Homo sapiens: one gene and its partner. The protein of the gene in region 2 purifies or fractionates together with the protein of the main gene of each other region. This does not show direct contact. Each region holds a gene or a part of one and is shown on either strand. Other genes may lie near its edges.

Region 1 (5,258 bases), on a different chromosome or scaffold from region 2:
GAGACCCAACACCCACCCACCCGCCCACATGCCACAATGTCTCAGCTGAAAGCCCAAATTGCATCTTCACACAAACCCTGTGGGTCCCCATTTCCAGGTCAACTCACCTTCCTTCTAAACCCTTCCTGGCTTCTCCAACACCTGTCCTCTCTGCCCTCCCTGAGGGCTCCTCCTCAGTCTTCTGGGTACCTCCCCACCCCACAATTTACTGACCACAGGACCCTCTCCTAATATTCCTCAGTCTTTCTACAGACGCTAGCCGAGCGTCCTTCCCGCTTCCCAGGCTCAAAGCCAGCTGATGTCCAAGCTGGTGCACGCGGCACACGGAGTGGAGGAGCAGATGCTGCAGACTTGGAGGTGGGGGAAACTACCTACTGGGTACAGTGTGCACCATTCGGGTGATGGCTACACTCTGACTGCACTTGTACCCCTTAAATCTACAAAAAAAAAAACAAAAAAAAAAAAACAAAAAACAAAAAAACAGAAAAAAGCTTACAATAGAAATGACAATCGAAACCAGGAGCCGGTGCCTGGACTGATGTTCTGCTGGGCTCCAGAGGCCGGCAGCAGGTCACCCCCTGTGCAAAGCCGCCCAGCCACATCTGCAGCATTGTGGGCTCCACCTGGGTCTGGCAGCCCTGCCCCACCAGTGGCTGAATTCACTCACACACGGCCTCTCTCCTCTGTGGGAGCCAGAATTGCCCAGGGGCCCATTTCCCTCTGAATCTTGGGGCCCCTTGAGTCTACACCATGCTGGGCATGGAACACGTTCTCCATTTTGTGGGAAAAACATCCAGCTGAACCCCACGGGAAGATGATAGCAGACACTCCCAGCCCACACGGGGCCTCTCAGCATGGGAGTGCCGTCAGTCCTCATCAGTGCACGCTTGCCAAGCGGAGAGAGCTGACTCCAGGCCCCCTGACCTGCCGCCAGGCCACAGGCCAGGGCGTCCACTGGTTCTGGTTTGGGGGTGCACCAAGGAAAGCCCAGGCCCAGGGGGCCGGCTCAGGGAGTGGAGCCCACACATGGGAAAAGACTCTCCTGGAAGCAGAGGAGGAGGAGACTGCCCCCCATAATGGAGATGCATGGGGTGTGCCAGCGGGGTGAAGACAGAGTGAAGGGCGAGGACTTCCTGCTGGGGACACCATGGCAGGAATCCTATGGGAGGCCCAAGGTGGTCCCAGCGAGCACATGCCCACTCTGCTGTGCCCACAGGGAGCAGCAGTGTCAGTCAGGACGAGATGGAGTGACCTTATGTAATCACTTAAGAAACATCAACTGTTTACATCTACAGAGGAAAATTGATTTTCCCTTTCTCGGCACGTGGGTTTTGGGGGTGGGACATCTGTCCTGCTGCTGACTCAGCATTTCACAGGCAACAGCCAGGCACATCCAGCCATGCCATTCACCTCTCAGCCCAGACAACCTCTCTGCCCCTGCTTCTTGCACTTTCTGGTTCTCCCTCCCCCAGTGTGGCCAGGCCATGCCCGTGTGGCCACCATGGCTGCTCCCCGCCCAGCTCACCTGCAGCAGCCCCAGAGCAGGCAGCTGGCAGCGGCCCTCGAGCTCGGCGATGAGCTCAGCTAGGTGGGCGCTCTGCTGGCCTAGGTGGGCTGCGCCCTCCCGCAGCCGGGGCAGCACCTCCAGCTCCTCCTCCTCCAGCCTCTGCAGCAGCTGCTGCTCCTCCTCTGCCAGCAAACGGCGAAGACGCTCGAACTCACCCAGCACGTTCTGCCGCTGGCTCTCCACCATCTTCTGTGGAGCCCAGGGAGAAGGACAGCTGAGGCCAGACCCCAGGCCCAGCCAGACCCCAAGTTTGGTCAGACCCCAAGCCCACCCAGAGGCCTGGCTGCACCCAACCCCACCCCCGGGGCCTGCTAAAGCCAAAGCACAGCACCAGGTGTGGCAGGACCCCAAACCCACCACCTGGTGCTGGCCAGACCCCAAACCCACCTGTGGCACCTCCCAAACCCCAAATCCACCACTCAGGGAGAGCCAAATCCCATTCTACCACACAGGACTGGCTAGACCCCAAATCTAAACCCAGGGCCGACTAGATCCCAAATCCACTATCTAGTCCCTCCCCAACTTCCAAATCCACCCATTGGCTTGGTAGAACCCTGCATCTACCACCTGGGGCCAGCTGGACTACAAATCTACCACCCAGGGTCCCTCCTGACCTCCAAATTCTCCCCTGGGGCTTCCCAGATCCCAAATCCACCACCCAGAGCCTCCCAGACCCCAAATCTACCCCAGAACTGGACAGATCCCAAATCTACTCCTCAGGATGGCTGAATCCCACATCTATGACCTAGTCCCTCAAAACCTCCAAATTTACCTCCAGGGCCCAGACCCTAAATACACCTGAGAGTTGCCACCCAAGCATGCTGGGACCCCAGGATGGGGCCCTTGCAGTATGGGAGCCCACGCCCACGACCTGGCAGGACAGGTGCACGTGGGAAAGGACCAGCCCTTCAGTGGGCTCGGTGGGGCCAGGCTGAAGCAGTGACTGGTCCTGGGGCGCCAAGGGCAAGTGTGCCTGGCCAGCATCGCCCCCTGGGGTCTCCTATACAGGACCTTCACCCCCTACCCTGCCACCCAGGACCCTGGGAGCCCCAGCACCTGCCTGCCACAAGACGCAGGTCTCATCCGCCTGGGCTTGGAACAGCAACGCATCCTGCATCTGCTTCCGGAGATGCTCCAGTGACTTCTCCAGCTTCGCCTGCGGGAGAGGCCAGGCAGGACCATGAGACATGAGTCCTGTCACAGAAGCCTGCCCTTTTGCACCTGACACCCTGTCCCCTCCTCAAAGACAATGGGGACAAACTGAAATCTGCCTGGTGAATCAGGGAACTCAATGCCCTCCAATAAGCGTGAGCCCTCATGGTAGGTGGGCAGCCTCTTGCCAGAGGCTGACAGCCCCAGCCACATTCTTTCCTTTTTCTCATATGGGGCATTTCTAGTCCTCGACCTTGCTACCCTAGCCCAGGCCTCACCCCCCTTTGCAAAGCTACCTCAAGGGTTCTGGCTGCCCACCCCATCTGTCCCCAAGCTGGCTCTGAAGGTGCTGAGCTCTCCTGTTCCCAAGCCAGTGTCTACTCCTCCTCCTCTTCCTTCTCACCTGCTGGCTCACATAAGGGCCTTGGACCAAGCCTATGCTGGGGTCCAAAAATTCTGCCCTATGCCCCCACAAATTCATAGGTTGAAATCCCAACACCCAGTGTGATGATGTTAGGAGGCGGGGGCTTTGGGAGGTGACTAGGTCAGGAGGGCAGTGCCGCCACAATGGGATTAGTGTTATAAAGGAACCCTCGCCCCTTTCACCATATGACAACACAGTGAGAGGGTGTTGTCTGTGAACCAGGAAGCACCCTCACCAGACACCAAACCTGCCAGGGCTTGATCTTAGACTTCCAGCCTCCAGAGCTGTGAGTCTCCAGCTTGTATACATCTGCCATGTGCAAACCATGGTGTTTTGGTAGGACAGTCAGCACGGACAGACATGCCTGGCTACCCACCCTATCTTTTCTCCAAGCCACTCGGGACCTTGTGCATTTTCAGCTTCATCAGCTATCACTGTAATAAGCTCCAGGATGGGTACACCTCCATTCTGCTTTCTTGGTCCTTAATTCTCATTCCCACGGTTCCTCATGCTGTGCATACCAGGAAGCAGTGAAAATCCTGTACACAAGCTCACTGTACTGTGTGTGCTTGGGGTGCCCTGAACCCACTTCTCGAAGGGTCTGCTCACTTCCACCCCATCTGACACCCTTATCAGCAACGGGCCCTGTGCTGGCCACACCTCTTTGCTTCTCAGCCACCCCAAGTCTTGGCTCTCATCTCTCGCTATCCACGCTCTGGAAGGATGGAGGTGCTGGGAGGGTCCAGAAGTCTGCCCCGGTAGCAGAGCCAGGACTTCAGCCCAGCTGCCTGGCTCCAGGTGCTCACTTTAGTTCACCACTTGGCCTCACGATTCGGGAAGACCGCTGGAGCACCAAGGACATGTCCAACTGCTTTACTGTCTCTGCCTAGGCTCAGCTCTCACGTGAGCTACAAGAACCCCAAATGGCGGTCCCTGTCCCCAGGCCTCTCTCCTCACTGCTGCCGACCTGTTCCAGAAAACTCAGGCCTGGCCCCTGTGACCCCAACCCCACCTCAAACACTTGGCCCAGTGCCTCTCACTTCTCCCTCAATGCCTCAGTCCCTACGGGACATTTTCAGTTTTCTTTTTTTGAGACGGAGTCTCGCTTTGTCCCCCAAGCTGGAGTGCAGTGGCACGATCTCGGCTCACTGCAACCTCTGCCTCCTGTGTTCAAGTGATTCTTCTGCCTCAGCCCCCTGAGTAGCTGGGATTACAGGTGCCCATCACCACACCCAGCTAATTTTTGTATTTTTTGTACAGATGGGATTTCACCATGTTGGCCAGGGTGGTCTCAAACTCCTGACCTCAGGTGATCCGCCCACCTCGGCCTCCCAAATTGCTGGGATTACAGGCGTGAGCCACCACACCTGGCCAACGTTTTCAGTTTTCAACACTAAGGTTACAAACAGCATTTGATCAGATGGAATGGGCTGTAAAGCAGCACAACATACCCAGCATGGCAAAGATCTTGCATTTCAGGTACCTGCATCTTTGTGTCTCTGGCCAGATCAGAACAGAAACCTCTTACCCTGCGTGTAGTCAGAACTGGGATGCTGGGGCTTGGTGCAGGCCTGGGATCTTCCCTGGCCTCCTCCTTCCTGTGGCAAACCCCCTCCCCACACAAGTGCCATCTGACACACAACCCAGAGAGATCTGGGGGCCATCTTCTCTCTCCCATGGTGCTGCTTCCTGGAACTGGAGCTTACTGGGACTTCCCTGTTTACCACCTCGGGGCAACCCAGCCTGGGGCTTGTTCAGCTGTCATGACCCCAGGTCAGGGCCAGGCAAGGAGTGAACCTGTCATGGAGCTAATGGGCCCCAGCTCTGGCAAGTGGACACACAGCCCCATAGGTGGGACTGAGCTTTCTAGGCCCATGGGGGCAGGTAAAAGCAGTTTGCTGTGGTTAACATAACCTAGGCTCTAAGGCAGTGAAGAACAGGATGTCATCCCCAAATATACCGCTGTGGTACAAGAATTATTCTGAGTAAAAGCAGATGCAGGAAGAGCTCTCTGTACTCCTATCTGCCTAAAAGTAGGGTATTCATTCCCCATGAGAAAGGCACCCTCTCTCTACCAGGAAGAGGAGGGCACTCTAATCCTGGGAGATGATTCTG
Region 2 (5,258 bases):
CAAAAACATTGAAGATTTTACATCAAAATGTTAACTATAATTATTTCAAGGTTATAGGATCATGAAAAGTATTTATCTTCTCCTTGCTTATCTGTATCATTGGCAATAAAATGCATTCTATATGTACTAAGGAAAAATAATTATTTTAAAAAATTTAAGCTCTAGATATCAAGAAAGTTGATAACACATTTTACTATGAGGTTGAATTCAAAGTGTTTGCCTAAAGAGATTATTTCTTCCCTCCTTTTTTCTAAATTGGCATATACTAATCTTTTCTTTCATTCAAGAACTTTTTCTGGTTGTATAATAATTAGAAAGAATGGATGGACTATCTGTATTAGTCCATTCTTATGCTGCTATGAAGAAATACCTGAGACTCGGTAATTTATAAAGGAAAGAGGTTTAATTGACTCACAGTTCTCTGCATGGCCAGGGAGGCCTCAAGAAACTTACAGTCATGGTGGAACGGGAAGCAAACATGTCCTTCTTCACATGGCAGCATGAGAGAGAAGTGCAGAGCAAAGCAAGGTAAAGCCTCTTATAAAACCATCAGATCTTGTGAGAACTCACTCACTATCATGAGAACAACATGAGGAACAGCCCCCATGGTCTAATCACCTCCCACAAGTTTCCTCCCCCAACACGTGGGGATTACAATTTGGATTACAGTTCAACGTAAGATTTGGGTGGCCAGACTCTATCCCTATCCAAGCATATCCTCTCAAAACTCTGCCTTCCTATTTTTTAATCTCTGTTTTCTTCCCCTTTTCAATCTATATTATTAGAAACAAATGCTCCATCACCCTCAACCCCAATTCTCCTCAGCTTTGATCTGGAAGTGTCTTTGGGAATGAGATTTTCCTCAAGGCTCAGGCAAATCTGGGCTGAGCACTCCTAAAATCATTATTCACCCAAACAGGCTTCCTCTGGCCTCTCTGGGGTTGGATTATACACATTCTCAGCTCCAGGAATGGAAAGGTGGACAAGCACAAAGCAACCTTATCCAAAAATAAGAAATTATGTAGCATCCTTTTCCTTATATTATAGTATATTCCCTCAGGACAGCTATATACTGGACGCTCAGGTCAAATAAGCCTAGGCTCAAATTCTGACCCCAGAGTCAAACTGCTGGGGTTGGAACCCTGACTGTACTATTTCTGGGTGACCTTGAGCCAGGTTTGAAGTTCCCTGAACCTGTGTTTTCTCATCAGAGAAAGGGAACTAGTTAATAATAACAGCACTTCCTAGAGCTATTTGATTAAAAAATTAGATAATGAATGTAAAGCCTTTAACACCGTCCCTTGCAGACAGCAAGAGGACAGTACATGTTACCTCCATGTGCCACACAGCCAGTGGGGCTGGGGAAGCCCTGCATGGCCTGTTGGAAAAGCTGCAATTATCAGGTTGGTGCAAAAGTAGTTGCAGGTTTTGCCATTAAAGACTACTTTTTCACCAGCCTATAGAAAGAAGGGGTCCTCTTGGACTCTATTTTCTGCCTTGCTCTAAGGCTCACCTCAGTGGCTCCTACTGCCCAGAAAGTTCCAGGCATTGCCTAGAATATTTCATAGGCCAGGAGCATCCATCCATTGGCAAAAGGCCACCTCCACAATGATAGGAAACGTGAGCTCGTGGGGAGTGGACAGTGGTTTGGTGCTCAATGCCTGAAGTCCATTGAGATTGACAGAGGGATCGCTTGCTAACTTGCTCCCAATGCACAGAACACAAAGAGGATGCAATGCCCGGTGGAAATTACTACACCCCATGTCTAGGACCCTGTGACTACAGCTAATGCCAACTTGAAAGCAAAGTCACTTCAAGGCAATCAGGAGTCGCTGAGCCTTCATTGCTCAGCCCACTTACTGTGTTTTGGTGACTCGGTGTCTCTCTCCCCGTGCTGGCTTCTCAGCTCAGAATATCTGGGACTCCAGCGTTCCTCTCAAGGCAACTAATTTGTACATAACTTTGGAATGTTTGTGAGTGTTCACAAAATAAAACTGAATAGTACTCGAGTGCCTGGCTCAAACCTTGCTCCACAGTCCCTCCCTCAAGTCCCCATTACCTACGCAAAAGCTGCTCTAGTTGATTAATCAAGTTGAAAATCCAAGTGTGGAAAACTCTGGTAGCTGTGTTCCAGAGTAAAATCCAGCTCTAGCTGGAAAACTGTGAGTGTATTTGACCAAGAGAGTTCAAGTTCAGGCACTTCTCTTTGATAGACTGGCTATAACTGAGTCTAACCAAGAGGCAATACTAATTCACACGATTCCAGGGGAATTTCAAAGGTGATCTTGTCCATTTAATTGCAGTGAAATACCTGGCACATTACGTGGAAAATATTAGGTACTCAATAAGTATTTGGTGAAGGTTGAATATTCGTAAGTGGGTCCTTATCATATTATATGGTCAGCATTCACAACCACTAGTAAGAACAACTGCTTGACTATTTTTTGTCAGGATGGAAAAAGAGGTTGGGATTTGTGCCTTAACAAGGAACCAGAAAATAAGGTCTTTAATATCATTTGCTTCAGGCTTTTAATCGGTGGAAAGAACAAAGTTGTTACAAATGACTTGCACTCCCAGCGAATAAACAGCAACGTTCCTGCAACAACCATTTAATCTATTAGAATAGTAGAATCTTCAAACATGTTCAAGAAATGGATGAGATTATATATATTCTCATCAGTCCATAAAACTATTACAGATTTATCCAATAGTGTGCTGTAGTCTGAGCTATTCAAACAGAATAATCATAAACAAGTAGCCTAAAATGCATGGTTTTCATGTTTACAGCCGTTTGCTTAGTTTTTCAAATAATTAAAGGTTTTCTCCTTCAAACATAACTTTGTATAAAGTACAGCTTATCTCTGGATAAACTGTGACACTTTACAAAGAATTATATTCTTTAGGAGTGAATAATGTTAAATTAAGGTTCCTGGGAAATGTTTTGAGTTGGTTTCATCTTTTTTCCTTTCTCAGAGGTTTGTATTATTTTATCTTATTATTATTATTATTATTATTATTGAGACAGGGTCACTCTCAGTCACCCTGGAATGAATGCAGTGGTGCGATCATTGCCTACTGCAACCTCAATCTCCCAGGCTCAAGTGATCCTCCTGCCTCCATCTCCTGAGTAGCTGAGACTACAGGCATGCTCTACCACACTTAACTAATTTTATTTTATTTTATTTTATTTTATTTTATTTATTTATTTATTTTAGTACAGACGAGGTCTTGCTATACGTTGCTTGGGCTGTTCTCAAACTCCTGAGCTCAAGTGATCTTTCCACCTCAGCCTCCCAAAGTGCTGGGTCAAATTCCTGATTTCAAGTGATCCTCACACCTCAGACTCCCAAAGTGCTGGGATTATAGGCATGAGCCACTGTGCCTGGCCTATTTTCCTGTTTTAGACTAAGGTTCAGTCTCTATTAATATATGTACATTTGCCTATAAGTAGTTAAATGTTCTATTCCTCTCTGGCGTTACAGATCAGTGCATAAAACTCTGAAGAATGCAGTTTCCTTCACAATAGTCAGGAAAAAAAGAACTTCTACCCTGTCCAAATTTGAAAAAATCTATCCAGTCACAGATTTCTACTGCATAGTTAGAAAAAGATTATATAAAATTAACAAGTCTAAAGAAAATTAAATATGGATCAATTAAGAGGAGGAGAAAAAAGATATTTTTAGTTTTACATAGATTAAATGTATTAGCTTCCTATAATGATATTTACCTGTTAAAAGAATGTTGTTCTGCTGGGGATAATCATGTAATAGGAATTAGGGTAATTCAAATTCTGCTGAAAAGGGGATTTAAGAGATTCTTATGTCACAGGGAAACTCAAGAATATGCTTGAAATCCTGGCTATTTATGCTGTCATTAAAGTACTTATGCAGGTACCAGCCTAAATTTATGGATCAAAGTGATCAACGATTACAGATGAACCACTAAAATGATCTAACATCCATTTATTGAGAAGTTTCCACTTGCTGTACACTTAAATTGCAGCCTTAGATTTTATATTTGGATCAAAGTTCCATCACATTGCATCATTTTCAGAATATTTGAACTTTTATTTCAATACAAACTGAGGTAAATAAATATCCCCCCCAAATAGACGCTGATGTTCCATATCTAACAAGTAACCAAATTGTCATGATAATCTGGGATCACTATCTAGACTCCATTTATGAAAGAAAATCTTTTATAGATTTCACAATAGCCTGATTTTCATTTTGTAAATGTGTCTCATTGTTGAGAGTGTCTTTATTCACTCCCATTCAATGATGAAGTGACTCTACTGTTTGAGGCCCAATGCCACAAGTTAACTTCATAGAAATGAGTCACGTCCAATTTGGCCCCTAGAAGTGCTTGCCAGCAATACAGATGGGCTTATTACTAGCACATAAAATTACTTTCATTCTTTACCTCCTGTATTAGCTTCCAAGAAGGGCTCCATTGGTTTATAATATTTTTGTTTTCTTCTAAGTATATACGCTTACTTTCATTTGGCCCATACATCAACGCAATTGGTTAGTTTTTTTATTTTTTCAGAGACAGAGTCTTACTCTGCTGCCCAGGCTGTACACCAGTGGCACAATCATAGCTCACTGCAGCTTCAAACTCCTATGCTCAAGAGATCCTTCTGCCTCAGCCTCCTGAGTAGCTGGGATTACAGGCACACATCACCACACCTGGCCACATTTTTTTGTTTTTGTAGAGATGGGATCTTGCTTTATTGCCCAGTGGGTCTTCAACTCCTGGCATCAAGCGATCCTCCCAACTCCGCTTCCCAAAGTGCTAGGATTACAGGCATCAACCACCCCACCTGGCCTGGTTTGGTATTTTTATCTCAGCTTTTATAGATGAGACAACTCAAGCGTGGAGAAGTTAAATGCTTGCTTGTAGCGCAAAACTATCATATACTACAGGCAGGACACTCAAGTCTCCTAGCCTTTTGATCTGCGGTGTTCCCGCTAAAAAATTGAGCCTAATAGAAGGCCCCATCAATATGGGTCCAATGATACTCAAAATGGAAATTGAATATTTTAAAATTAGATTGGGTATTGTTATGAAAGAGCAGCATGAGGGATCTTTGTGGTGACGGAACAGTCACATATCTTGACTGTGGTTGTGAACTACCCAGGAATGGTTCTGAGGTCCCCCCAGTCCCCTTTTGTTCCCTGCTGGCTGGAAGCATTTCCTACGTGGTACCACCTGACTGCCTAAGAAGACAATCACGGATGTGCAATCATGTCAAGGCA

The links. Proteins that work in one complex are often made in the same cells at the same time.
Region 1: the proteins of IPCEF1 (region 2) and TRIM11 purify together in Homo sapiens (affinity purification with mass spectrometry; 2 studies listed by BioGRID and IntAct, with this or other methods). This does not show direct contact.

The regions. Positions count from the first base shown.
Region 1 is NC_000001.11:228,399,439-228,404,696, forward strand, and holds part of TRIM11 (E3 ubiquitin-protein ligase TRIM11), read right to left. Parts: intron 2,724-5,258; coding exon 2,628-2,723; intron 1,757-2,627; coding exon 1,526-1,756; intron 1-1,525.
Region 2 is NC_000006.12:154,346,192-154,351,449, forward strand, and holds part of IPCEF1 (interactor protein for cytohesin exchange factors 1), read right to left. Parts: intron 1-5,258. UniProt on the Homo sapiens protein: Enhances the promotion of guanine-nucleotide exchange by PSCD2 on ARF6 in a concentration-dependent manner.